Regions from separate parts of the Homo sapiens genome. Here all the other regions are reported to be linked to region 5. Evidence: microRNA targets listed by miRTarBase, many of them from high-throughput screens and not tested one by one. Region 5 holds a microRNA gene; each other region holds the end of a gene's coding sequence.
The links. Region 5 holds the annotated microRNA hsa-miR-943 (CUGACUGUUGCCGUCCUCCAG, at 2,616-2,636, opposite strand). A microRNA usually pairs through its seed, bases 2 to 8, with sites in the 3' UTR of a target mRNA and lowers its output. Matches are read on the target gene's strand: a 7mer-m8 pairs with bases 2 to 8, a 7mer-A1 pairs with bases 2 to 7 and ends in A, and an 8mer does both.

Region 1: the mRNA of CADM2 is a reported target of hsa-miR-943. Seed matches in the 3' UTR shown: 7mer-A1 at 2,381-2,387.
Region 2: miRTarBase lists LHFPL2 as a target of hsa-miR-943. Seed matches in the 3' UTR shown: 7mer-m8 at 1,437-1,443.
Region 3: the mRNA of RAD1 is a reported target of hsa-miR-943. Seed matches in the 3' UTR shown: 7mer-m8 at 2,353-2,359, 7mer-A1 at 1,803-1,809 and 7mer-m8 at 406-412.
Region 4: miRTarBase lists USP48 as a target of hsa-miR-943. The part of its 3' UTR that is shown has no 7-base or 8-base seed match.

Annotation. Positions count from the first base shown.
Region 1 is chr3:86,066,322-86,070,614 of GRCh38, forward strand. CADM2 (cell adhesion molecule 2) reads left to right here. Exons shown (of 10, transcript NM_001167675.2): 10 at 344-4,293. The coding sequence ends at 462. Among named protein-coding and RNA genes, the nearest start is that of CADM2-AS2, 240 kb to the left of the region's middle.
Region 2 is chr5:78,485,291-78,489,583 of GRCh38, forward strand. It overlaps LHFPL2 (LHFPL tetraspan subfamily member 2), which reads right to left. Exons shown (of 5, transcript NM_005779.3): 5 at 1-3,863. The coding sequence ends at 3,607. Among named protein-coding and RNA genes, the nearest start is that of SCAMP1, 130 kb to the left of the region's middle.
Region 3 is chr5:34,905,061-34,909,353 of GRCh38, forward strand. RAD1 (RAD1 checkpoint DNA exonuclease) reads right to left here. Exons shown (of 6, transcript NM_002853.4): 5 at 4,198-4,293; 6 at 200-3,888. The coding sequence ends at 3,705. It also overlaps a transcript of TTC23L not described here. Among named protein-coding and RNA genes, the nearest start is that of RAD1, 8.3 kb to the right of the region's middle.
Region 4 is chr1:21,675,839-21,680,131 of GRCh38, forward strand. It overlaps USP48 (ubiquitin specific peptidase 48), which reads right to left. Exons shown (of 27, transcript NM_032236.8): 27 at 2,460-3,601. The coding sequence ends at 3,579. Among named protein-coding and RNA genes, the nearest start is that of RAP1GAP, 8.6 kb to the left of the region's middle.
Region 5 is chr4:1,983,788-1,988,398 of GRCh38, forward strand. It overlaps MIR943 (microRNA 943), which reads right to left and starts at 2,690; the gene lies at 2,597-2,690. NELFA (negative elongation factor complex member A) reads right to left here. Exons shown (of 11, transcript NM_005663.5): 4 at 4,131-4,220; 5 at 2,485-2,615; 6 at 2,327-2,396; 7 at 1,989-2,077; 8 at 1,021-1,132; 9 at 61-326.

The sequences.
Region 1 (4,293 bases), not on the chromosome of region 5:
GACTCCGTCTCAAAAAAAAAAAAAAAAAAAAAAAAAAGATCTTAACAAAAGACCCTGTTTGCTACAGCTGTAAGGTTCACATTGATTTTATCCATCATTAAAGAAGTCACAATTACTTATTACCCATTTCAGTTTGGCTCTTGCCTGTAGTAAATCAAGCCATAACTTCACCTGCAGCGTACCTGAAAACTGTAAGAAAACAGTGCAACTTTAGAAGAGTCAATCGGGTAGCATATTAGGTCTCAAAAATCTGGCAAAAGTTTCTTCCTAAATAATGTAGCTTTAATGCTGGGTATTTTACCAGTCTCACAGAGCTAACATATTTTTCTTCCAATATATGCAGGAACGTATTTAACAAATGAAGCTAAAGGAGCTGAAGATGCACCAGATGCTGATACAGCCATTATCAATGCTGAAGGCAGCCAAGTCAATGCTGAAGAGAAAAAAGAGTATTTCATTTAAGATGCAGGCCAAGATTCTGAGTTTTACTACCAGGCTGAATGCTGGAGAAAACTGGCTATCATCTTTCAGAAGTCATTTCTACCATCGTCTGCTACCCTTATTAACTCCCATACTGTACTGCTATCAGTAGCCAGTGTATACCAACAATCAGCTGTTGAAAGCATCATTCTTTAATTACTGTACCATCCATAATGCAGGACATTTCTTACTGCCTAAATTTCACACCATTGCTCTTTTAACATACAGTGCTTGAATATACAGCCTTAACAATGTTAATCATCTCCTTGGATCATTATATTGAGTGGTTTTTATACATTAAAAAATGTATGCAGAGTTTTTTTCCCCCATTTTTTCCCCTTTAAGTCATAGACCTTATCAGTTTGCCATTGGACAGCTTTCACAAGTAACAGGATTAGGGAAGGACATAATGTATTTAAGAATAAGTGAAGGTTAGAGGTTTACAATTAATGTTTTCTACATGTCTGTCTTCAAAGACAACATGCTTTGGAAACATATGTCCTAGAAAACATAAAATTAAAAAAAAACACTATAGTGTAGTTTTTGGAATGTTGGAGATTATACTGGTAAAGCTGTATCGATTTGCTATTGAAATATAGTATTTGATACAGGAGCCATGTGTACGAATTGCAATCATGACATGGTATTTTCTATAATTATAGAGATCTTACTATTAGGATATTGTAGCTTCATTTACCAATAAATTATTCCAAATGATTTACTGCTTTTGGAATCACAAATATTTAATTCATTTCTCTAATTTGATTCTATAATTTATTTGCTTCATAAAGATTCACCTGCCTAAACAATATTGAAGTATCCATAGGGCACAATTTTCAGACATTTTAGTATCTGTATATAGTGCATATAATAAATCCAATTAAACATTATTTGATACATATTTAACTTTTTTGGCTGTATGTAATTCAGTCATAAGTAAGCATTTTCTAACGTCCATTATATCCCTTTAGGTATTACTTAAACCAATATTATAAGTAGATAACATGTATTAGTATTTTTGTCTGTATGTCCTAGCACTGTTCAACAACAAATTTTTCTAGTTCTTGTTAATTTTTATTTGTTATACAATGGAAGCACAATGTTATAAGGAAAGGTAATTTTAAGCTAACAACCAGTGCACAGCCTCAGGTTTTAAATTACAACCACAGTTGAATAATAACCTAAAAATAAATTTTAGTTTGCTAAAAATTTACAAATTTTCATTTTGCAGTTCCAGAGCTGCTTACCTATGTTGGTTTGCCAAAAAGAAGTGTTTAAGATATGTTTTCTGTATAAATGAACTAATTCTTTATATTAAATTCCTGTCTATGCATTTTGTGAGGTACAAACTGATGAAACAGTGAGTGATAGAGAATTTCTGCCATGCTTTTAACTCCAAAGTGAAAGTCTCTTTCTCTGGATTATTTTAAAATTTTGGCGTGTTTAACCATTAAGAAATGCTGTATTCTTAAATATGAAACAGTTAATCTAAAGTCTTATTATTTCTTCTAGTAAAATAAAATATTGTTAGATTAGTTCTCATTAAATTTATTATATGCTAAAGAATAAAACTCCAGTTAGATTTAAAAAAATCCCATTTACAAGCATTGCACCTTTAAGAAGAAAACAAATATGACAGTATGGTAGCTATACTTGTGATGTCTGACGCATGATGGCCTATGGTTTTAAAAATAGTATTGTGGAATATATTTTTGGGTAATAAGAATGGTTGAGTGCAACATCATGTATTAATATCAAATGAAAGACAAGGGTGCTGTATCTTTGATTATTTATCAAAAAAGTATAAATCTTTTAAGGAAAATGTTAGAATTTTAAAGTTTTTTTTTGATTGTTGAAGCATTTATCTTGTTGATTTCTTACAAAAGAAAAAGGACGATGTCAGTCAAGCAGCACTTTTTCAGAATATACAGAACATAAATAATATGATGTGGTTGAGTGTTAACATAATAAATCATATACAGTATGACATTTTAAGGAAATAAGTCTGCATTGATGTGATTGCATGCTTGTTTTTACAGTTCACTCCATACCATCTGTGGAAAAATGCAATAATATGTTAATATAGTATGGTAGTTTGAGAGAATCAGGTAGGTGCTACTAGACACATTGAAACTAGAATAGGTTTATAAACTGTTCATATCTTTCAATGCATAATCTTTAGAAAGACTCCACAAAGCAAAATTCATCCTGTTAGTACAAAATGGAAAGGTTCTTATTACAGAAGTAAGTTGTACAAACTGCATCATCAATTACTATGTAAAGCCTAATTTCAGGATGCACTTACAAAATTGCTACTCTTCATCGATGCCGTATTTACATCCCTCTTCATTTCATCTATATTCTACTTGGCTCCAACAACTAAATTGTTGCCTAAATAACTCAATCATTATTTATAGCACTGTAAAATTAGAAATCCAAAATTGGTTGCATTTCATGATTTTTGACTCTTTTAACCCTTCAGAGTAATATAAAATCTCATTAGAACTCTTATAAAACCAGTTAGCTAAAACAACTAGATTATTATACTAGTTATAAATGCTGGTATATTATAATTTGTGGGATCTAATTAAATGTTTGCCTATTAAATATAGTTTGATTTAAATGAGACACCATGTTCTGAACTGGAGAAAACAATATCAATGAAGTCATATTTTCATACCTTTAAAAATTATTTAATTTTCAACCAAACAAAAAATAAATTGTAAAAATTATGCTCATTTCTATTCCAACAAGTCAGAAAATAATGACATAATATTTCTAAATGAGAATGATGTCAATTTCATTGTCTGGAACATGCACACTTGTGTGCACATAGAGTCAATTTCTGTCTCTTCTAAGTGAGCACAGTAGGTAGGGAACTCAATGGAAGCAGTGTGCACACACACACACCCTTAGTAGAATATGGAGCATTATTCTTTACCAAAAGTAGCTATTCTCTGCCAGTGTACTGTTTACAGTGTAAATTGATTGTCCTCCGTCAAAATCAAGTCTAAGCGGCATTTTACTTTTCTTTTCTTTTTTATTTTCCATTTTTGGGTGTTCTAGATAGGATTATTATCAAAAGTAGGAGGAAAAAGAAATGTTTGTGAGTGCAAGATTAAAGACAGAGCGCATGAGCAGAGTACTGATGGTGTGCGTGTTTGTGTGTGTGTATATGTGTGTGTATAAGAGAGAAAGAGAAATCGAAAAGAGAGAGAAATTTCAACTTGTTTTCTTTTACCAGAGAATCCAAGAAGCAGTTTAAGGAACCTGATATTGGAGTTTAATCTAGAAACTGGATGATCTCATATTGATTCATGATGCTTAATCTTTCATTGAAACTCCACAATTAAAATAACAAATAGAGAAAGAAAACTAACTTTCCTAAATATGGCAAAGAAACTAACACCTCATTTATTTTTATTTCTTTGTAAAAATATAAATATCTCAATCAAAAGTACAGGCTCATTTGTAATTATGTACTCATGATTGTAACAGCATTGAGATTTCATATAGGCACATGTATAGCAGCTGTTTGACAGTGATGGCTCTTCCATGTAACATAGCAGTTATCGTGTAATTTAGTGCCACTTATTGCAAAGTGTTACCAAGGGGAACATTTCAAATGCCTTTTGTTTTTCTTTGGACATCAAGGTAATTTAGTGGACAACAAATATTAAATTTTACATTATGCTTTTTAATTGTGGAGAAAATGCAAAACCTCATGTCTTACCACAACTTTCCCATGGTATTGCTAATTACTTAGAGTCTCTAAAATTGCCCAATATTATTTCCCTTTGCAAATGGTAATTT
Region 2 (4,293 bases), not on the chromosome of region 5:
TGCACAGGAACCAAATCAATGCTAGACAATGTATTAGTTTACAATATAATAGGATAACTACAAGTTTGAAGGCTCAAATTGAGTCCATCAGCTGTAAATACAATTTTATATTTGGCTCAAGTGGCTGTTGAATATCAAGTGGTGCCGAGTCCCTCCAGAGCACCTACTGACCCCCTCAGCCTTGGAAGGAGTTTCACCACAGTCTCAGAAGAAATCCCAGTCGTGCCTTTAACTCTTTTGGCCCTTGGGAGTCATTGCAACCCCAATACAAATGCCGGCCCAGGGATTTCCAGTGGCCACAAGTTATTGCACAGAGAGGTCTGTTCTAAGCCAGACTCTTACAGCTAAGGAGGTGTGAGATTAGCCCTTAAATACTGGTCTAGCATTAGCATGGTCTATAAAAGCATGTTAAGAAATAGCTCCTCAGTGATTATGTACCAGCTACTAGTTATCCTACTAAGAGAAAAGGCAACATGGCAGCTTCACATTTCACATGAAAGACTAGCATTAACTGGGCCTGGCGTGCGGGCTTAACTTTGACATAACACTAGCGATTATTTTAGACCCAGGAAAAAATGATTTCATACCAGTCTTTTCTTCACATAAGATTTGTGTAGCATTAAAATTATGGGTTACTGAATAAGCCATGAAGGCAAAAATGTGGAACTCTCCTTGCCAAAACAGAAACAAACATCCCTGTTTTGACTCCTGTCCAGTTTCCAAAACAAAACAACAAAACATACATACACCTTTGTTATTGCACATCTTTCACACAAACTTGTGTATGTATAATATACATATATATTTTTAAATATGCTACACATAAAAAAAGACTATGGCACTTTACAGAATATATGTTTAACAAAGATCATTACACCACAGATGTTTGAAAACTATACAAAAACCCTTATACAATTAATGCAACATTGTTTGAATTATTAGCACACAGGTTTAAAGAATCCACAGAATCCAAGGCAAATATTTCTGCCTCAGAGTTCATTGAGAAGCGCAGCCCATCCCATCCCGTCATGAGACTTTCTTTAAGCCAATTTCAGGCAAAATAAATAAGACTTTCCTGGTAGTAATAATGGTCCTATTTATTAGAAAAATAAGTGTGAGCCAACAATCTATTTTTAACATTTCTTTCTAGCATATTCCTCATACCCAGTGGTTTTTAAACAGCTGTGTGGAAGAGCATGGTTTAGACTAGCATGATTTTAGATGGTCCTTTCATCCCAAGCCTGGCTAATGGATTCAAGGTTTAAAAGTCCCAACATTACCTTTTTACTATTTACTAAGTCAGTGTTTAGGTAGTTTTTAGTGGTTTGGGGTTCTGTGTGTGTGCATGCCTGTGCTTTTGTCTTCTGTTGCATTCAGATTAATAACATAAACACTATCGAGTGAGTTTATTATGGCCAAGAAGTCACACTCCCTTGTGACTGTTCCCAGGTTGATCTAGAGGTACACTGCCACCTTAGCCAAAGAGCAGGTGATGGACATGCTCGGAGGATCCTGTGAGCTTAGGACTTAACTTGTAAGGACACTGAGATTGTAAACCTAGTGTCAGAAAATGGTTTCTCTATCCAAGAAAGAAAGAAAAGTGAGTCTTCTGATAAGTTTATGGAAAAATTTTGTGTTTTTCATCAAGGTTTGAGACTTGGTTAGAACATTATAAATGTACACACAGAGACAGAAGCTTTGTCCAGTGGCTCCTCCAGCCTCTTTCTGTGTGGTGTTAGAGATATGGTTAAGGTTTCCTAGGCTGCTATGAAGATACCCGTTTTTTTCTTCACCAAAATCACAGGATTTACATCTCACTCACTTTGAATTTTGGTTCAGGAATGGGAAACTCATTAAGGCTAGTTCCACACCTCCCACCCCTTTTGCCCTTAGCCCTTAATCTGTGAGAAGATGGTTTCTCATATAGGCCAAACACCAGAATGTAGTAAAACTGCGGTTGTCCCATTCCATCTCTGTATAATTATCTGTTCTGCACCAAGATACGGTGCTTTAGACTCAGACAGCTTTAACATGATTCACTCAGGGCAAGGTTGCAAACTCTGAAGTCAGGGTTGTATAGCTGGTAGCACAATACCTTGTCCACAGAAGGTACTTTTTCAAAACAAAGTCCTCAAGTGAGCAGATTAATGAACCCAAATACCTACACTTTTTCTCCTTCCAGAAATCTGGCAGTTCCATCTCACTTTCTTAAAGTGCTAAGGAGTGTTTCTGTATCATGATACAATTTTGAAGCTCCCATAATGTCAGAGTAGCTTGTTTCTGTGCTGCTCTGGTCATTCTGAGATACTATCTTCCTGAATCAGTGATATTGGTAATTTATGGAAAGTAGATTAAAAACCCCTGAATCCTTATTCATAGTGGTATTTGATTCTTTTTGTAAACAGGTGTAGGCAGTGCTGTGACCTTGATCTAGCGCCTCTTTTTGAATTAACTTTGTCCTCTGTGCTTTCCTGGAATTAAGGTCTTGGCTGCAGTTCTTCAGTTGCAGCAATTTAATGTTATCTCAGTCTGCTTTCAGGATCAACACCAGTAACTACAAAAACTTAACTCCCATAACTAGCTTCTTTTTGTTGTAGAATGCCATTCTGCTACTGTCGGGATTGGAAATAGAGCTGACTACAGCATGGTCACCAAACTGGGAGTAAAGGTCTCCCCCCAAGTGCCGAGATTCTGGCAGGTCCTCCCAGTGAACATCTGCATAAGCCACAGCTAGCTTGGAGACCTCAGTCCCTGGAAGGAGGAAACAGTGAGGTTTCCTTTCGCAGTCAAAGCACAATCCTAACCTTAGAAGAAAAACATGTGATCTCCAGAAGAAGAGGAGACTGGGCCAGAACTGGTGCTAGCCTGGCTGCTGGGAAGAAGAAAAAATACGTCTTCACTAGCAAGATTTCATATTTTTGTTCTCATATGATTGTATAGGTCCTTATTGTTTCTTTACTCAAATTTCTAAAATCTCTGGAGTGACAGTTCAGTTGATCCACCTTACCCTAGGATTCAGCCTAGAATAAGTTCCACAGCATGACTCCACGCCATCCCTGCTGACCCCTTTGGTCAGCTAAGCAAAAGACAGTGTCTTGCTGTGCCCTTTAGCACACATCCTGTCCCCAGTAAGTTTATAGTTTTCTGTTCGTTGGAGACAACTTGAAAGAACAGAGGAAAACAAGAACTCCAACCCAAAACCCCATTCTGAGGCAGAGATGCTCACAAGCAAGCAGTGTTGGAGCAGAAACAGCCTGCAGATCTGGCGGACGGTCTCTTCCGTTACCAGAGAAACTGCTGCCCTAATGATTTAGATTATTATCCTTCATTGAACCTGGGGGAGATGGAGTCTGACAGAACTTGGCAACTCCAGGTCTAGGATTATATACTATTTTCATGTTCCATTCCTTATAATGTGCACTGCAGACCGCATGTCCAGTAACTTTGCGTAGCTGGATGTGGCCTCTCATTGGTCCTGTTTAAGCCTCGGGCCGTGGAACGTGGCTTTGGTAGGTAAAGGTTAGTTCTCCACTTGACTCAAATGATGAAACTGTGGACTGTTTCACAAGATTACTCAAGGGAGAAAATGGCATTGTCTCTTCCAAACTAAAGGAGGCAGATCAGATTTTTCCCCTCTTCAATTTCTTCCTGTACTTTGTCACTAGAGGTTGCAATTTCTGCTTGTGCAGAGAAGACAGCACAGATGAAAGTGAGGACTGTGCCCCCAATGGCGGTATAAAAGGCCCAGCCCAAGGAGCAGTCTCCAGGTTTGTAGGCAGATGCATAATGTCCACAGTAGTCTATGGCCTTCTGGCAACCCCAGCCAGCAGGGTAGAGTATCAAACCGAGGATAAGGAATAGACCTGCAGAACAAAAGAGAAAACAGATTAGAAAATCCCCATGGTGCTACAACTGTCCAGATCTGTTGTAATTGTTACTTGATTTGCTTGCTTTGGGCAAGGGCATCTATTCTGCAATAGAAAGTGTTGGGACTGTTTCATGCAAACTAATCTGACCTGATCAAGAAGTATCACATTATTAGAAATATTTTCAGCCACTTTTTTACATGTTGGAATGTGAATCCACTAAAAATTTCTCTTCTAGAAAAGCAAATTGGTACTTTTCTTCTTCTTAAGACAGAGTCTCAATCTGTTGCCCAGGCAGGAGTGCAGTGGTGCAGTTGTAGCTCACTGCACTTGAACTCCTGGGCTCAAGCTATCCTCCTGTCTCAGCCTCCCAAGTAGCTCGGATTACAGGCACACACCACCACACCTGGCTAAGTTTTTAAGTAGA
Region 3 (4,293 bases), not on the chromosome of region 5:
ACTTGAAACCGCTGCTTTTGGTGTTTCTGTTTAGAACACTAGCTGTCCACTCCTGAGAGGGAAATTCTGTTAAAGCTAATGACTCCTCCTGGGGTGCTTGTAACCTGATTCTAGTATAAAAGCAGCACTGCCTATTCCAAAGAGAATGAAAGCAAATTACAAACATAATTGGGAAAAGAAAAAATACTATACACTCCGATTTCTCAGGACCCAATAGATTTTATTTCAGGTGGGGATAAGGGACAAGCAATGTGAAGACAGGGAAGGAAAGAAGGAAGTCTCTATGTTCTGAAGGACTGCCTACCCCACTGTTGAGAGTGCCACATTCTGCCCTTTTAGCAATTTTAATTAATTTTTACTAGGACTTTGGTAACACCACAGAAACCCTGTGGCTTCCTGTTAAAATGACTGTGTTACATGCCTTATTTTTATTAAAGTGGAATTTAACAAATACTTTTATTATTTTGAAGCATTTCATCAATTCTCGGTGGAAGCACTACATCATCGAATGGGAAATCAACAAATGAAAAATGAAAAAAAAGATTATCCATTCACAGTAAGCACCATTTTACTAGAAAGAGAGATAAACTTCAAAAAGACAGAACTAAAAGTCTTTAAATATAAGACTGTATTCTTCTATATACTACACATCAATTTGTAGTGGCACCAAAGTGTCGCCTGCTCTGCCTGAGGGAGCACTCCCCCTAGTGATTTTCCATAGGAAATAAAGTTAAACTTTTATTAAAGTAAAAATTCCTGGGTCAATTAGAACACAAATAAGGAGGAAATTCTTTATAAAATAAGTACCTTGATGTTAGGGTGACTTAGAAACAATTCATTAGTCTTTGAATTCTAAATAGCTGAAGACATGCAGCTAAAACAATAATTTTTATTTTAATTTTTTTTGTTTTTGAGACGGAGTCTTGCTCTGTCACCCAGGCTGGAGTGCAATGGTGCAATCTCGGCTCACTGCAACCCCCGCCTTCCAGTTTCAAGTGATTCTCTTGCCTCAGCCTCTCAAGTAGCTGGGATTACAGACACCCACCACCACACCCAGCTAATTTTTGTATTTTTAGTAGAGGTAGGGGTTTCACCATGTTGGCCAGGCTGATCTCGAACTTCCTGACCTCAGATGATCCCCCTGCCTCGGCTTCCCAAAATGCTGGGATTACAGGTGTGAGCCACCACTCCCGGCCTAAAATAATAGTTTTAAATGTACAAAAATATCCATCCTTACTGAGCTGATTTATATTTGTTTTAAATTCTTTTTAGATTCAACTTTTAAAAAATACATTAGGCCAGGCATGATAGCTCACGCCTGTAATCCCAGCCCTTTGGGAGGCCGAGGCGGGTGGATTGCTTGAGCTCAGGAGTTCAAGATTAGCCTAGGGAACATAGTAAAACCCCATCTCTACAAAAAATACAAAAATTAGCAGGGCATGGAGGCATGCACCTGTAGTCGTAGCTATTTGGGAAGCTGAGATGGGAGGATTGCTTGAGCCTAGGAGATTGAGGCTGGAGTGAACTGTAATCCTACAACTGTACTCCAGCCTGGGCAACAGAGCAAGATCTTGTCTCCAAAAATAAAAATAAAAAAACTGAGATCAAAATAAATTTAGAGCTAAATCATCAGAATTAAGTAGTGACTAATAAGATGCTAAAAGAAAATCTGAAATTGGAGAGTCTTTCATCTAACAGAGTTACTAAATGCCCATTATATGTTAGGCGCCGTTCTTTGTTCACACTAGTAACAAAAGACAAAAAATAACTATGCTATTTCACATTTAACAGTCCTTAGAATGTTGACTGATTAGATATTTTCCCAAGTATCTTTTAGGTTTGTTCTGTTCTTGGTGGTTATCTAAACAAAAAATACTCTGACAACATTTAGTAAATTCATTTGTTTCCTTCTTGAATACAAACATTTTAGAAAATTCCAACTTCTTTTGTAGTCACTGCTAAATTTTGTATGCTGAGATTGAGACACTTACTAGTTATCAGGTGCTGACCCTGGCCACCTCCCAGAATTGTCCATATGCCTGGGAAGCAGTGCCTGCCATTGTGCTGGAGTAGCCTCCTTGCAGCACACTTTGCTGTAATACTCTCCAAACCAATTTTCTCTAATGCTATGTGACCTATATTAAGGTAGGGCATTCCAATATATCCTCCAATTTTGGTGAATACAATTGAATGGTTCTCAACAATGAATAGTTTGGCACACTTTTATTTGGGGGAGGTGGGGTGGTCACAATGACTAGCATCAGTGGGTAAGGGCCAGAAAGGCTAAATGAATCCTGCAATGGGATGACAGGTTTTTATCCTAAAGAACTGTCTCACTCAAAAGGCCAATAGTGACTGTCCATGGAGGGACACTCAGCTGTTGTCACCTGGTACAGTAACAAAGACAGAAGCTTCACTTTACTCATGTAATTTTTTCTACTAGACAGGAAGATAATTTTTGCATTTTATTAAATATATTTATATGCCACAAAAATTATTTTAGTGACAACTACCAGGAAAGTACAAAATCACTTAATAACTGGTTTTCTACACCTTGATTTGTCAAGAAACTCATAAGCAAATGGAAAGTAGTAAGTACTGATTGCAGTTACTTACAGCAAACAGTTTTGAGAAGAAGAAGAAAACCTGTAACACTGAAAATTGCTTTATATCCCATTCATAGATCTCTTCAAAAGGTCTACTTTAAAAATAAATCACATAAAGAATTGTTCAGACTTGTTTGGTGATGCCTCAACTTCAGAACATTTGCAAGGAAATCACATGTAAAAGCAATCATCTCATACAATTAAATGCTATTAAAGAAAAAAAAAGTTTCCTTTAAAACAGTGGTTCCCAAAATTTAGCAGGCATCAGAATCTCCTGAGGGAAGCTTGTTAAAATACAGAATGCTGGCCTCCTCCCCAGAGTTTGCTACAAGTTTGCAGGCCATTCTGATGTTGGTGCGGGCACAACACTTTGAGAACCACTACTTTAAGATCTAGTCTCTAGAATTCAAACTAATAAGCAATGCCCATATGCCTTTGCTTTTTCTAATAATAAATAAATAAAAGATCATTTCAGGTAGCTGCATCAAACTTTAAGCCTTTAGACTTTTTTTTTTTTTTTTTTTGAGGCAGAGTTTTGCTCTTATTGCCTAGGCTGGAGTGCAATGGCGTCATCTCAGCTCACCACAACCTCCGCCTCCCGGGTTCAAGCAATTCTCCTGCCTCAGCCTCCCGAGTAGCTGGCATTACAGGCATGTGCCACCACGTCCGGCTAATTTTTTGTATTTTTAGTAGAGATGGGGTTTCTCCACGTTGGTCAGGCTGGTCTCGAACTCCTGACCTCAGGTGATCCGCCCACCTCGGCTTCCCAAAGTGCTGGGATTAAAGCCACCACACCCGGCCACCTTTAGACTCTTGAAATGTTACGCTGACTCACAATTATTCCCATGAGTTCAAAAGACAGAACTAAAGGACAGTCCTGAATAATCTATGACTACAGGAAAACATTTATTTACATGCCCTCTACAAAATGGATTTACAAAACATAGTAACTATTAGGGTACATGACCTTGCTCCTATCTTCCCCATTGTGCTTCTTCTCTATAGAAAATCCAATATGAAATGACAAAGAGTACTGTACTCAGAATAAGAACTTCATCTATCATAAATGTACACATAAATATCAGTGAATTGTCATACTCAAGACTCAGATTCAGGAACTTCTTCATCAGGGCAGCAGTAATATTCCACAAAACATATTTGTCCATCTTCATTTCTAATCATATACTGTAATGAAAGGAAGCCTCTGTTATCTGTCCGAATAGATACCTTACAAGATAGGACTAATGCCTTTGTAGAGGGTTTCAGTAAGGAAATCTTGTATCTGTAGAAGAAAAAATAAAACGCTGTTATATCAACACAGTGAACACTGCTCAGAACTCCCAAGTAAAGGATAAAAAGTAGCAAATCTAAGAATAAAATCAAGTACTTATCCAATTTGCTAATATTTTCTGTTTTAAAATTCATTCACTGTTAGAACCCTACATCCCCTAGTAAGTCCAGCACTCTACTATTCATTTTTATAAAATGCTGTGCATTTTAATTAACAGATTGAAAGTGTTTTTATTTAACAGAAATCTGGTATTTAACCTCCTCTTTATCACCAATGACAACCTCTATATTAAGAACTGACCTGTTGACTTGGGTCTGATTACAATGAAATGCTTCCATCAAATCAGAATCTTTGGGATAGTCAAGGTGGGAACTTCCTGCATTTCCAAAAGTAGAT
Region 4 (4,293 bases), not on the chromosome of region 5:
GCCAATGAGACTGTCTACCTGGCACACACTACCTGACACAGAAATGTTGCTCAGGGAAATCAACAAAGTGCTACCTACCATTTTACAAATGTTTATAATTTGTACTTTAATGAAAAATAGAGGGTTCGAATAATGTTGATAAATCCCCAGCCAGTATTTCTGCCTACAGAATGTCTAGGAGATGGGTGTGTGTGTGTGTGTGTGTGTGTGCGCGCGCGCGTGTGTGTGTGTTTTGGGTGGGGGTGGTGATGCCAGCTTTCAGAAGTAGAAATGTTGTTGACAAAACCCTGTACTCTGGGGTGGGGGTGGGAGTATGGGGCGTTATCACAGACATGCACATTTTTTTTTTGTGACAAGGTCTCACTCTGTCGCCCAAGCTGAGTGCAGTGGTGTGATCACAGCTCACCGCAGCCTCGACCTCCTGGGGTCAAGCAATTATCCTGCCTCAGCCTCCAGAGTAGCTGGGACCACCGGCATACCTGGCTAATTTTTGCTTTTTTATAGAGATGAAGTCTCACTATGTTTCTCAGGCTGGGAAAATCTTCTTAAAATGAAAACGCTGGCTTTTAATCTGCATGCACTCTGTTCGCAGTCCCCTATTAACACTGAATGAGCTGAGGACTAAAGTACCCAAGAGAAAGGATATGATTCTGCCCCATGATTCGGTAACAGGAAAGACAGGCTTTCTTGCTCATTTCGCTTCAGCGGTTTGTTTAGACAGAGATAAATCATCCCTTGGGTTTTTAAAACAGGTTATTCAACCTGAGCATTAGATTCCAATATTAACCAGAGTCTGATGAACAGATCTATGACCACATAGACCAACCAAAAGCACATTTAAAATAACCAAAAAATTCACTATGGATTATGCTCCCACAGAAATAAAGGGACACTCATATCTTTTAAATTTGGCAGGAAGGTAACAGTAATTCTAAACAATAGAGTTCATAAATACACAGAAAGATACTTACTCCCCAGGAAATGAAGACACCCAAATGCAGCCTATATTTCAGTTCGTGGTGACAATCTGTACCAGTGTAGTATGCTGAACACATTCGTTTCAGATTAAAGAATGGTCAGAAATATCAAGGGGAAAAGACCCAAGCTTCATAATACCTTATACCGGAGACTGATCTAATATAAAAAAGTACACATGCATGGCATTAGAACCCCAACACAAAGAGTCTCTGAACTTTTCACAGTCCAGAAGGCAAATGGACTCCATCTATTCATAATTACAGACGAAACGAGAATCGGGCTTTAGGTCATACCCTTTACCTGTTTTTCCCTGTACCAAGTGAGAAGGGTGGCAATGCAAAACCATTCAATACAAGCATACGTTTCTTTGCAACTCTGCCTACTATGGGTGGGAGAGGCCCCAAGCCCAGGGTTTCAAAGAGTACAGGAGTGGCCTGTGGATGCAGATTCCGATTCAGCGGGTCTAGGGCCTGAGCTCCTGCCTTGGTAATAAAGCTTCACAGTGTCACTGGAGCCGCTGGGCTGCAGTTACTTTCAGCAGTGCTGGCAGAACAAGGCAAGTTGTCAGAGCAGGAGGAAGATGACCCTGAGCCAAGGGCAGACTCTTGCAGCATCACCTGCTCACTCGGTGCCCACCCCACCCCTGGACAGAGATAATAAAGAAGCCAGTACTCAGAGCAGGTACCACCAGCCTGAAAGATTTACAAAAGGCTGTTATTTCGTAGCATTGCAGGAGGAAAAAATACCCAAGTAACAAATTTCAAAACTGTTATCAACAGCAAATTGGGGAAAATATATCAGATTTCTGGGGGCTGCTAACATGTTTATGTCAATCCCCAAAAAGAACCTTCTCTGGCCAACAAGCTTCTTTGTAAGGAAAAGGAAGTGGCTTCAATCAAGCATTGTGCGAACTTTTATAAAAGTCTTTACCTTGGGAAAGAAGAAGTTTGTGTTATTAGTTTTAGGCTCCTGCATTCATTTCTTTGGAGCTAATAAAACAATGAGATCTAAAAATCAGGATCCATCAGCTCAACTTCAAGTCCTTCCCCTGTGCCAACCTCAAGGCCAGAACAGTTGGTCCCTTGGTTCCACTCCTAGGATGGTTTCTCAGGGGGCTGTGTGCAGCTCTCACCTTCCCCCATAGATAGGCTCATTAGAGACCCCCTGCCTCCTCAGGGGACACAGACTGAAGACATTAGAAACACAGAGGGGAAACACAAACACGAAGTTAGAATTTTACCAAATGGCCGTAATTACTCTGACAAAAGGAGCTATTCAAAAGGGATGCTGCCAAGGTTATCGGGTCTCAAATCAAAATCTGCCTTCCCCATCCATGATCTGAGTTCACATTTTCATGAAAGGGGGAAAAAGCCTTGCACAAACCCAAGGCCAAGAAAAGTGTTAACAAGAGAGATGCCTAAGCTAGCATCTCAGCCACAAACTTACACAGACGGACTCAACAGAGAAAACTTTTTTTTTTTTTTCAAAGGAAAAACTCCAGTCTTAAGTTCAATTAAAAAAACCCCTTCAATATTCTTAAGAATATTGCTTCGGTTACGTGTTGCTAAGAATGATAATCCTGAGTTGGATGGACAGCACATCCATATACTTTTTTCCTTTTTTAAACAATGATCTAAGAGACCCTCTCAGGGCATTTTGGAATAATGCTTTCAAAAAGAGAACTGAGGTCCAAGAAACAGTGACATGGAGGACAGGAAGAACAAATTTTATAGAAACCTTGTGTTATCCAAATGTACTTCAGTCTGATTTACTCTTCTGATAGGTAGTCAGATTTTTTATTTTCAAACGTGCCAGGTACATTTCCCACTTTTGAATAACAGCAAAACCGGAAGAGGATGCTTTCACACATAATAAATGTTCTCCATCCTTTCTGAAATGCACCAAAGCAAAAAGCCTCTGAAGTCAAAACATGAGACATAATTCCTTGCTCATTGCAGGAGACATGCAGGTGCCCCCTCCTTTACCCAATACCAAGAGACAGACGGCCGGGCAGGTGTAAGGCGGGTGGCGCTGCAGCTGACATGGAGAAGAGTCTAAATCTGAAGACACTTTTCCACACTTAGGACAAGTTCTTCACTTTCATGCTTTATTGAAAGTAGAATATGAATCAAAGACAGGCATTGGTAAGCAGGTTATGTCTCTAAAATTACTTTTCGTTCAGAGCAGAATGTTGTCCCATCTACTTGATACAATCCTTTATGGACCAACGCATCTGGTATGAAACTCGAGCAAGGAAATATAACAGAACTTTATTCCCCTCCCACGACTATAAATCTCATATGTAAACATGATTTACTATTACTGCTACTAAACTTGTTCCGTCTTTACTTGCCCCCTCCCACCCACCACCCCCCTTAAATATAAAATTGGAAACATTTCCTTCAAGTCTGATGTCCATCAGTGCAATCTGCTTTATTTGACATAAGGCATTTGGGACAGTCACGTTTGAATGGATTTCTGCCTTTTGGAAGGGGCATGTAATGGTTTAATTCTTAAATCCACCTTTGCTTTAATGCCCTAACATGTCAAACTCCTCTTCCCCTCTGGTCATTTCTTAGCAGTCAGCAAGTATTCAAAGATTAATGTCCAAGAAGACCAGTACCTGGGAAAAGAAACACACGTGGAGGGATAGTTGTGAACTACAGATTAAAAGTTCATGGATTCCATTTACCAAGAACACATCATCAACAGGGAGCATCAAATTTAATAAATGAACACAGTCGCACCTTGGTGTGGGAGGATAAGACAAAATACCAGCAGACTCCAGGCTCTCCGCTAAATCACATTTTTGTTGAAAGCCATGTGCTTCCTAAGTGTATCTTCACACAAACTAACCAGATTTTATTGATTCTTTCATTTAATGACCATTCTTCTTTTCTGAGAGTTTCACTCTTGTCGCCCAGGCTGGAGTGCAGTGGTGCAATCCTGGCTCACTGCAACCTTATCTCCCAGGTTCAAGCATTCTCCTGCCTCAGCCTCCCAAGTAGCTGAGATTACAGGCGCACGCCACCATGCCCGGCTAATTTTTGTATTTTTAGTAGAGATGGGGTTTCACCATGTTGGCCAGACTGGTCTCGAACTCCTGACCTCAAGTGACCCACCCGTCTCAACCTCCAAAAGTGCTGGGATTACAGGCGTGAGCCACCATGCCCGGCCAATGACCATTTTTCATAAAGACGTTTTTTGCTTTGTTTTGACCCCATCAGGAGTCCCTTTGTAATGGTAGCATGCAGACAACACAGCTGCAGCAAGAGGAAGACTTTATTTTGGCCAGTAGATTTGTCTCTCATTTGC
Region 5 (4,611 bases):
AGGTGGCCAGGGCCGTACCACCTACCTGGTGGCCTGTGGGCCCTACCAGTGTACACCTACCGTGAGGGACAGGTTCTTCTTAGGCTGCTGCTGAGCAGGGGCCTGGGTCTGCGGGGCCACCATGGCAACCGGGGGTGTCTGAGTGGTAGGGGCGACAGCCGGAGGTGTGGTGGGTGTCAGAGGCGAGGTGGGCGCCGCAGGCGTGGGTGTGGCAGGGCTCAGGCCGCTGTTGTACATGGGCGCCCGCTGCTTGAACTGCGCTGGCAACGTGGGGCTCGGGGCGCTGGGCTCCTCTGGTGGGCGGCTGGCTTCCCGGGAAGATGGGGCTGCAAGTAGACCGGGGCCTGGTGAGGGGGCTGGACCCCCACCCTGTTCCCAAACCCTAGTGCTCCTGGAGGTGACAGGCTCAGCTCCCCTTCTCTGTCCTGCTACCCTCTGACAAGAACTCCCTGTGGCCCCCAGCCAAGGCACAGGCCCCAGAAGCCCCAGCCAGAGGAACAAGGCCAGTGGTCTCAGGCCTTTCCAGACTCGCAGATAAGATGTCTGGACTCTGGCCAGCTGCTGGCCTGCAGCAGGTCCCCATACCGTAGGCACTGCTGGGAAGACAGGAAGGCTGTATCCTCAAGCCCCTTGGGCCCAGGACCTGGCCTGAGGTGCTGTGAGCCTGGCAGTGCCCTCCGTCTGGGAGGGGATGGCTCTCAGCTCCCCTCCCGCCTACCCAGCAACAAGAGCTGGGTCACCTGGCAGAAAACCCTTTCGAACCCAATCCCCTTCCTGCCGTGTCCCCTGGGGCCGCTGCCTGTCTGTGCCCAGGACGGGCAGGGTGGGGCAAAGCAGCTGGTTTATGTCTTGGAGCTCAAGCTGAACAGCGGGGCATCTGCCCCCAGCAGATTCTGGCTGAGGCAGAAGGGGGACAACAGAGATGCAGGAGTGAGAACCGCAGCCCTGGCAGCGCCCGTGGGCAAGGTCATGTCCTGGCAGGCAGCTTGGCTGGTTCCAGGCTGGGGCCAGCAGACTCACCTGGGGGCGTCTCGGAGCTGGGGATGTAGGAGGAGGCGGGAACCACGCTGGGCGTGGAGGGAAGGTAGCTCGTGGAGGGCAGCGCAGGCTCATTGTTCAGGGACCCAAGTTTCTGGAACACAGAGTTTAAGGTTCCTTCCAGAAGAGGCCATGCTTCCGGCATGTGCTAACACATGGCCCGACCCGGAGCTCCACTGCCACAGGCTGTGGCCCCCCGAGCTAGAGCAGGAAGGCGGGGGCCACTCTCCCGAGCTCCCTGGGCTAGACAACGGGACCCCTGGCCCCTGGCGCCCCAGCAGAGTTGGGGACTGAGCCGCTCCTGTGTAGGAGAGGGGAGGGGTTGAGGAGCCCAAACAGCCCATCTTGAGCACAGAAGGAGCGATGCTTTTTCTTACCACGAAGCGTTGATATAAAGGAAGATGCTCATGTTAAGAAACACAGAACACGCAGCGGCGGGAAGAAAGGAGCTTATTATCCTGAAGTGACCCCACAGTGTGGCCTCCTCCAGGCCCTGGCCTCAGACGACCCACTGCAGCCTCTGTGCACCTGCCGCGCCCCGTGGCTGCCTCCCACCCGCAGGCAGGGCCTGGTCTCCGGGACACTGAGGCCTCTGACCACCCAGCACCCCCACAGGCCTGTCCTGCACCCATTCACGGCCACGTGCAAGGCTTAGGTCCCACCAGCCCTGCCTGACGGGACACTGAGGCACAGGGTTGAGGAGGACTCCCCTGGCAGCCCCTCCAGCAAGCGTGGGGCAGGTTCCCGCTCCAAGCCTGAGTCAGATGCCCATGTCAGGGCACGGCCCACACTGCCTCTCATGTACATATACGTATATATACATAAATACAGACTGCACACATATGTACATACATATATATATTCTCCGACAGAGCACACTAGTGGCCACAATCGGAACAAAAGGGGCACCCGCAGTGGTGCCAGACATGGGGTGCAGCCCCGAGCCCTACCTGCGTGGACACCAGGCCGGCTGCGTAGTCCGGGGTGGCGTTCTCCACCACCGTTTCCTCCTTGGCCGGCTTCTCCACCACCTCCGCATCTGTGGACAAAACAGGAGTCCTCGCCAGTGCCCGGGCGCGTCTGCAGTGTCAGCTCAGGGCAGCGGCAGGGAATCAAACAGCTTCCCAGGGGAGGCCACCAAGGAGCGAGGAGAAAAGCAGGCACCCACCCACGGAGAGCAGCCTCACGGGGCACAGCCCTGCCCGCCGAGCGTGGGCACAACCCACCCCAACTGGGCAGGGCCCGCAGGGACCCCCATTGCCGCCGACACGCAGGCCCCAACCCCCACCGAGAGTCTTCCTTCTCCGCTTCGCCTCTCGGCCAGCGCCAACCATATCCAGCTCAGAGATGTCCAGCAGCTGCCAAGACAAGCACAGCCCTGCCTTAGTGACGGCACCAGGGCGCAACGGGCCCCGGGGTGCCACAGGAGCTGGGGGACGGGCCTACCTTCACACCTCGTTCCTTCCGCAGCAGCGTCCTGGAAGGCGGGATGGGGGTCCGGTTCCCTGTGGGGCTGAAGACGCTGGGCGCCGTGGGGCTTCTGAAGGGCGCCTGCTTCGGGATGCCTTTGAGTGGGGCTGGAGGACGGCAACAGTCAGGGCGCCAGCAGCAGTGACCGGCAAACGTCCCCCACCCCGAGCTCAGAACGTCCCACCCTCTTCTAGGCTAGCGCCGCAGAGGGGAAGGGCCAAACCCCTGGCGGGCAGCGGGCAGGACCCCCAGGATCCCGGACCTCAAGGAGCAGGGGAACGCCTGGAGCCACGACCTCACACTTTGCCAAGACACCAAACAAAGACAGCGGCACCCCAGCCCAGCCACAGGATCTCACCAGGTGGAGTCTCTCACCAGTGTGGCGGGGGCTGAGCTCTGCCTCCTTCCTGTGCCTCCACCGGCAGGGGCATGAAGCCAGGCGCCTGGGCTTGAGGGCCGCCCTCCCAAGCCTTCTCCCCGTCCCCTGAGGACACTCCTGAGGCCTACCTACGCTGTTACCCACCAGCGCCCACACGCACCCTCCAAGGCGTGCGTGGCTCTCATGGTGCCAGGCCCGGAGAGAGGACGCCCGGGGGATGGTGCCATCAGCACACCGGGCCAGGCTGGACACACTGCTCAACGGCTGGCCCACCCTCCCTGGGCCAGCAGGTGCAGCCCTGGCCCTGGGATGCCTGGTGGGGGTGGAAAGACAAGGGTCTGCTCCAGGCGGGGTAGAGGAGAGCAAGGTGGAACCTCGGCTGCGGTGGGCAGGAACATGACCCAGGGACGGCCCCCCACACAGCGACAATAGTCAGCAGACCCAAGATGCCTTCTACTAGGTCCCATGTGAACACTGTGGGATTATGGGAGCCCAAATAAACTAAGCCAGGCTGGTCTGGGAGCTGCATGGAGAGCGCCTGTAAGGCTGCCCTTTCAGCCCCACCCATCTGCAAGTTTACCCAGCTGTCTCAGCACAGGACGACACCCGTCCTGCCCTCTGGCCCCCAGGTCACTATCCAGCACCCTCTGGGGTGAGTATGCCCTGCCATGGTTCCCAGGGGCACGCCGTCTTCCTGTGATCAGGGTGCATCCTGCTTAAGCTCACGCCCAGCCCTGAGAGCACAAATCAGGAAGGGCAGATGGAGGGGTGCGGGGGGCACAGCCCCACGGGCAGCTGAGCACGGTCACGTCCTCCCCGCGGAGCCGCCCAGGGACACTCGGAACCCAAGAGCAGCACTTGGGGCCGAAAGCCCGAGCTGGGAAGGCCGAGAGCCACCGGTGCCAACAGCAGAGGAGCAGGGGCCAGCACTGTCCTCAGATCCCGGCCTTCCTGTCTCCATGCCCAGCGGTGTCCTCAGATCCCGGCCTTCCTGTCTCCGTGCCCAGCACTGTCCTCAGATCCCGGCCCTCCTGTCTCCGTGCCCACACATCCTCCCAGGGAGCTCCCCAAGGGGAGAAGCCGGTGAAATTGCCCCAGTGCCTTCGCTTTCCCACGGGCTCCCAACACTGCTGCCTGAAGACCATTCACAGGCACCACCTCCCCAACAGGGAGCGGGTCTCCAGGTGAAGCCCTTAGCTCTGCCCCAAAAGCAAGGCTCACGGCACCAGGGTGGGGGCCTTACTGGTGGTGTCCATCTTCCGCAGCAGCCCCCGGCCCTTGGCGTGGAAGGGCACCCCGGCGCTCCGCTTCAACTGCTGGGCGGTCTCCGTGGCTGGAAGGAAGAGGTCACATATGTCAGGGATCCTCAGAGCGAGAGCCCTTGGCCCTTGTAAAAACATCTCTGTCAAGTGGATTCATCCGACGGCCTGAGCCGTGAACGCTGCATTCTCTCTAAATGAGCAGCTGTTCCGAGCCGGGCCTGACACCAGCTCGCACTTTACAACGAGTCAGAAACTCACTCAGGTGAGCAAGTTTCGGGAGCTGGGTGGCTGTGGCTGCACCTCCCAGGACCCCATGGCAGGGGGGAGGCAGCCGAGGAGGAGCTGAGGGACCTCATGAGCCCTCTCCATCGACCCGGGCCTCCCCCTGGCCCAGTGGTAGCACCGTCCTCGCTGAGGGTCAGCAGGCACGGTCTAGATACAAAAATATGAGGAAGAAACAAA